Regions from separate parts of the Homo sapiens genome. Here region 2 is linked to region 1. The links come from fine-mapping of genetic effects on gene expression. A gene starts in region 1. The other region holds a variant in brackets. All regions are shown on one strand. Distances are from middle to middle.

Region 1 (2,916 bases):
TTCTTTTTATTAAAGACGGTCCCCATAATGTATAAACTTCAGGCTCACCAAACCCGGAAGTGTCTAGGTACAATATAAACTCAATATGGAGTGAACAACTAGTTTAGAAAATTCTATATCTAGGGTTTTGTTAGTGTCTTTCATAATATGACCTCAGGTAATCAAGTGACTTACTTGGCCAGTGGAAAGGAGTGGAAATAAAGATTAAGAGGTGTCAATAACAGACACCCAGCCGTAGATGGGCCAGAAGAACAAACTCTGCCCCTAGTCTAGTGGTATAGAGGAGACACAGACAGAAACCATTAACAAGCTTTAAGCAAGGGAGCAAGTGTTTAAGACTAGGAGGCAGGCGTGTGGGCAGGGATTGTCAGGCCTCTGAGCCCAAGCCAAGCCATCACATCCCCTGTGACTTGCACATATACATCCAGATGGCCTAAAGTAACTGAAGATCCACAAAAGAAGTAAAAATAGTCTTAAGTGATGACATTCCACCATTGTGATTTGTTTCTTCCCCACCCTAACTGATCAATGTGCTTTGTAATCTCCCCCCGCTTAAGCAGGTACTTTGTAATCTCCCCCACCTTTAAGAAGGTTCTTTGTAATTCTCCCCACCCTTGAGCATGTAGTTTGTGAGATCCACCCCCTGCCCACAAAACATTGCTCCTAACTCCACCGCCTATCCCAAAACCTATAAGAACTAATGATAATCCACCACCCTTTGCTGACTCTCTTTTCGGACTCAGCCCGCCTGCACCCAGTTGAAATAAACAGCCATGTTGCTCACACAAAGCCTGTTTGGTGGTCTCTTCACACAGACGCACATGAAAGGGATCTCATCTATAATTAGAAAGATGGTGCTAGCTTGAACCCAGGTGATGTTTCTTCAGGATTGCCACTGTTTTGTATTGACATTCATCGAGTAGAATGATCTTTGGGTCATTGGGTACTTTGGGGCACCCTAACTATGTAGGAGCCAGAGTTTCACTAGCTTCCCCAGCAATCCTTGCTTAGTCAATTGATTCCTATGTCTGCAGCCAAATGCTATAAAAAACTCTGGGGAAGGTAAACTCCTCCCATCCTCTTGGTTTTTCAATTAATCATTTAGATGGGAAACATAAGCCTACTCAGGTAAAAAGACACGTGAACTTCAGGCCAGGATCACAATCCTGTCCCAAATATATGACTTTCCACCCTCCCTCAACCCTTAATGGGGGTGGGCGTAGGGGAGTGTATTTTTAAAACAAATGATTTTAATTCATTCACTGTTTCCTAGCAACCAGGAAAAAGCATGTGTTCCTGATGTCTGTGAGCACCAGTCTGAGATGCGCGGATGCTTCAGCATGCCTCCAGAAGCAGAGAAAGAACAAAAGCACTGGAACCGGTCTCCGGTTGGTGAGCGATTCTCAAAGGGGAATTTGTTAAGAGCAGGCACTTAATAGAACAGCCCGAGAGACCTGTACCACGATTGCAGGTGTGCAGCAGGGAACCTGCATGGAATGTGCAGATATTCTCCAGGAAATGATATTCCTATAGAATTTGGGGGCTCTGACTTCTAGGGAATTGTTTCTATGAAACAGCTAAAGCCTGAGACAGCTGACATCTTTCCAGTACCTCTTTTGTGTGTGCTTTCAGCCACACACAAAACACACAGCGGTCTTGTTTTCTTTAGAGCTCTATAGACAGAGAAGAGGGATAACTGGCAGAATTCAAATCTAGCTGAATTAGAATCCATGCAAATGGCCTTCTTTAGACCAGGCGTAGCTACTAAATGCATATAAATCACTGACTTCCACAGCTGTAAGGGACCTCTCCAATCATTCAACGCTTGTTTTACAGAGGAAGAAATGAAAAAACATAGGCAAATTAATTTGTTCAAGGTGCACAGCTAGTTGGTGGCCTCACAGGGTCTTCTGACCTACAGTTTAGTGGTTTGGGAGTGGGACATACTCATATTTTAAAGACTGAAACCTTTGCATATTATACCATATTGAATGGTGGTGGTGGGGGCAGGGGATGGGGAGGATGAGGGATGATCTAAGACGAAGCTGTCATAACAACGAAGCAATGCAAATATTATAACTTGTAAATCTGAAACTCAAAGGGCTTTCTCAGAATTACAAGACAAGAATGGATTAAAGCACATGCTAACTGTGCCTTACTCCCTGCCAAGGAATTGAGATAGGCCAAATAGTCTAGCAACAAATGTTTTTCCAAACTATTGAATCAGAAGAATTTTAATGCATGCCAGACTTTATAGAGTTACAGAATGTTAGGGTAAGAAGTGCTCTTGGCAATGTTAACCAGGCCCATCTTTTTCGGATAACACCTGAGGCTGGGAAGCAGAAGACGCACAGCCACATCAATGAGTGTGGCTTTCCTGGGTCCAGTGCTCTCTCTTCTCTAGGCAATAGGGCCACCTCTATGGCTTGCTGCATCCTCTCCCCATTGACTCTGTAGGGAGCAATATTATTGTCTTGATACTTAATCAATTTCCTGTGAAATGCTCTTACTTTCTTCCCCACTTTCATCTTATCCACATCCCGTCCACTCCCCAAAAACTAAAGCAGATGTAGCAGCAGCAAGAATGATCCAAAATGGCTGGGCACGGTGGCTCACGCCTGTAATCCCAGCACTTTGGGAGGCTGAGGCAGGTGGATTACAAGGTCAGGAGATGGAGACCATCCTGGCCAATATGATGACACCACCCGGTCTCTACTAAAAGTACAAAACAATTAGCTGGGCTTGGTGGCGTGCACCTGTAGTCCCAGCTACTTGGGAGGCTGAGGCAGGAGAATCACTTGAACCCAGGAGGCAGAGGTTGCAGTGAACCGAAATTGTGCCACTGCACTCCAGCCTGGTGACAGACCGAGACTCCGTCTCAAAAAAAAAAAAAAAATCCAAAATAATGAAGGTGGC
Region 2 (2,916 bases), 22 kb after region 1:
CCTTTTTTTTTTTTTTTTGAGACAGAGTCTCACTCTGTCACCCACACTCGAGTGCAATGGCACAATCTCAGCTTACTGCAACCTCCACTTCCCGAGTTCAAGCGATTCTCCTGCCTCAGCCTCCCGAGTAGCTGGGATTACAGGTATGCACCACCACACCCGGCTAATTTTTGTATTTTCAGTAGAGGTGGGGTTTCACCATGTTGTCCAGGCTGGTCTCAAACTCCTGCCTCAGCCCCCCAAAGTGCTGGGATTACAGGCGTGAGCCACTGTGCCCGGCCGAAGGTATTAGACTTTCTAGAACCATATCTTTGTTTCTGAAGAATTTTTTGAAGAATTTGAAAAATGAGGTCATTTTTTATACGTGTTTGGAAGCAGCAAGTTTTAGAGAGCAAAACAAAACAACAATGAAAAAACAGTAACAACTCCAAAAATCACACACACACACACACACACACACAATCTAGACTTTAAACTTAATCACACACACACACAAAAAGATCTCTGAAACAGGGGTTTATAGACACCCCCCGCAAGCCTCATCAATGGACCCTATGTAAGGAAAACCTACCTCTAAAGATTACTCATTGGTATCTTATTTTTAAATATAATTTTGTTCCATATATATTTTCTTCCACAACCAATGAAGATTTTTTGATTCTTGATGGAAGCATATCTTTTATTTCCTTAGTATTTCTCACATGTATATAAAGTACTTCGCAGGCAGCAGAGATTCAGTAACAATTTTTATTTAGTGAATTGGCAGTAGGTAGTAAGCGAATAGTCCTTAGGTGACGGTTCTCAAATCTCTGTGCCCTGTCTATAGTGATCAAAGGCTCAGTTCTGGGGACCAGACCTTTCTATAGGCTGATTGATGCTTGCGAGCCCAGGAGTGTCGAAAGAACAAATGCCCATGTTTTAGTAGGGCCCCAGGTCCTGAGATGAATCCCTTCCAGAAAAGCCCTTTCTTAATAATCAAGCGACAGAAAACTCGTTTGTGTTTTTTCTTTCACACTTTATTATTTGTGCACTTTAGGCATTTTTTCCAACTCTTTTTTTTTTTTTTTTTTGAGACGGAGTCTTGCTCTGTCGCCCAGGCTGGAGTGCAGTGGCGCAATCTTGGCTCACTGCAAGCTCCGCCTCCCGGGTTCACGCCATTCTCCTGCCTCAGCCTCCCGAGTAGCTGGGACTACAGGCGCCCGCCACCACGCCCGGCTAATTTTTTGTATTTTTAGTAGAGACGGGGTTTCACCGTGGTCTCGATCTCCTGACCTCGCGATCTGCCCGCCTTGGCCTCCCAAAGCGCTGGGATTACA[G/A]GCTTGAGCCACCGCGCCCGGCCCAACTCTTGGGTAATGTATCTTTTAAACTAGTTTTAAAAATTTTAATAGTGTACACACTTATAAGTAAAATTTTCAAGCCAGACAAAAAATATAAAATGAAAAGCAAAAGAACTCCCTCTTCTTCACACCCCTGTCCCACTTTTCAGAAATAACCACTGTTAATATTTCTTATGGTATTTAATTATTTGCTACACATATACATATAAACATACATATATGTATGTCTCACTGGTTTGTTAGAATTCTTTCTATATTAAAGGAATAAGTATTTTATTAAATGGATGAAAAACATGCTTTCACAGCTTGGTATTTGAAGAAGATTTTCATTTTAAATATTTGAGCTTACTGTTTTTCCTTTTTGGCTTGCAGATATTATATGTCTTTTAGCTGAAGAACAATTTTTTTAACCTCAAGATAAAACAATGCCTTATTCAGAATTTTTTATTTATTTCCAGCCACCGAATTTCTTCATAGAGTAAGAGAAAAGAGGAAATTATTAAAAAAAAAAAAATCACAGCCAGGCACGATGGCTCATGCCTATAATTCCAGCACTTTGGGAGGCCAAGGAGAGCAGATTACTTGAGGTCAGGCATTCAAGACCAGCCTGAACAACATGGCAAACCCCATCTCTACTAAAAATACAAAAATTAGCTGGGTGTGGTGGTGCACGCCTATAATCCCAGCTACTAGGGAGACTGAGGCATGAGAATTGCTTGAACCCAGGAGGCAGAGGTTGTACTAAGCCGAGATTGCACCAGCGCACTCCAGCCTGGGCAACAGAGCGAGACTCTGTCTCAGAACAAACAAACAAACAAAACCCTCAGTGTTCTGGGAAACAGTTTTTTGTTTGTTTGTTTTTTGTTTTTTTTGAGACAGAGTCTTGCTTTGTTGCCCAGGCTGGAGTGCAGTGGTGTTATCTCGGCTCACTGCAACCTCTGCTTCCCGGGTTTAAGCGATTCTCCTGTCTCAGTCTCCTGAGTAGCTGGGATTACAGGTGTGCACCACCACACCTGGCTAATTTTTGTATTTTTAGTAAAGATGAGGTTTCACCATGTTGGTCAGCCTGGTCTTGAACTCCTGACCTCGTGATCCACCCACCTCAGCCTCCCAAAGTGCTGGAATTACAGGCATGAGCCACCGCGCCCGGCTAGGAAACAGTTTTAAAGATTTTTTTTTTAAATTGCATTGTCCTAGGAAAGCGTCAGTAGTGGGCACATTACTAGGAAGTAAATTTGGAATGAACACGACCATACTAAAGAGCTAGAATACAGCATACTTCTTGAATCCAGGCTACCCACTTAATAACTTGAGTGAGTTACCTAATCTCTCTGTGCTTTTAGTTTTTCATCTCTTTAAAAAGTCATAATAGTACCTACCTCATAGGGTTGTTATAAGCATTAAATAAGTTATATGTGTAAAGGCTTAGAAAAGTGTCAGGACAGGCCAGGCATGGTGGCTCACGCCTGTAATCCCAGCACTTTGGGAAGCCGAGGCGGGCGGATCACGAGGTCAGGAGATCAAGACCATCCTGGCTAACATGGTGAAACCCCATCTCTACTAAAAAATAGAAAAAATT

Which allele goes with the higher level. Alleles are on the strand shown, and positions count from the first base shown. SD is a standard deviation of normalised expression in the study named.
For the expression in cerebral cortex of the gene that starts at base 1,315 in region 1, allele G in region 2 goes with a higher level than allele A (small effect, 0.35 SD a copy in GTEx).

The links. PIP is the estimated chance that this variant, and not a neighbour inherited with it, causes the effect.
Region 2: its variant is fine-mapped to the expression of C2orf80 in cerebral cortex (GTEx, PIP 0.97). The same link has a PIP of 0.9 or more in prefrontal cortex.

What each region holds. Positions count from the first base shown.
Region 1 is chr2:208,188,429-208,191,344 of GRCh38, reverse strand. C2orf80 (chromosome 2 open reading frame 80) reads left to right here and starts at 1,315. Exons shown (of 9, transcript NM_001099334.3): 1 at 1,315-1,392.
Region 2 is chr2:208,166,815-208,169,730 of GRCh38, reverse strand. The region is part of intron 8 of C2orf80 (chromosome 2 open reading frame 80); the gene reads left to right. Among named protein-coding and RNA genes, the nearest start is that of CRYGA, 4.7 kb to the right of the region's middle. The variant G/A (reference allele first, on the strand shown) is at 1,317.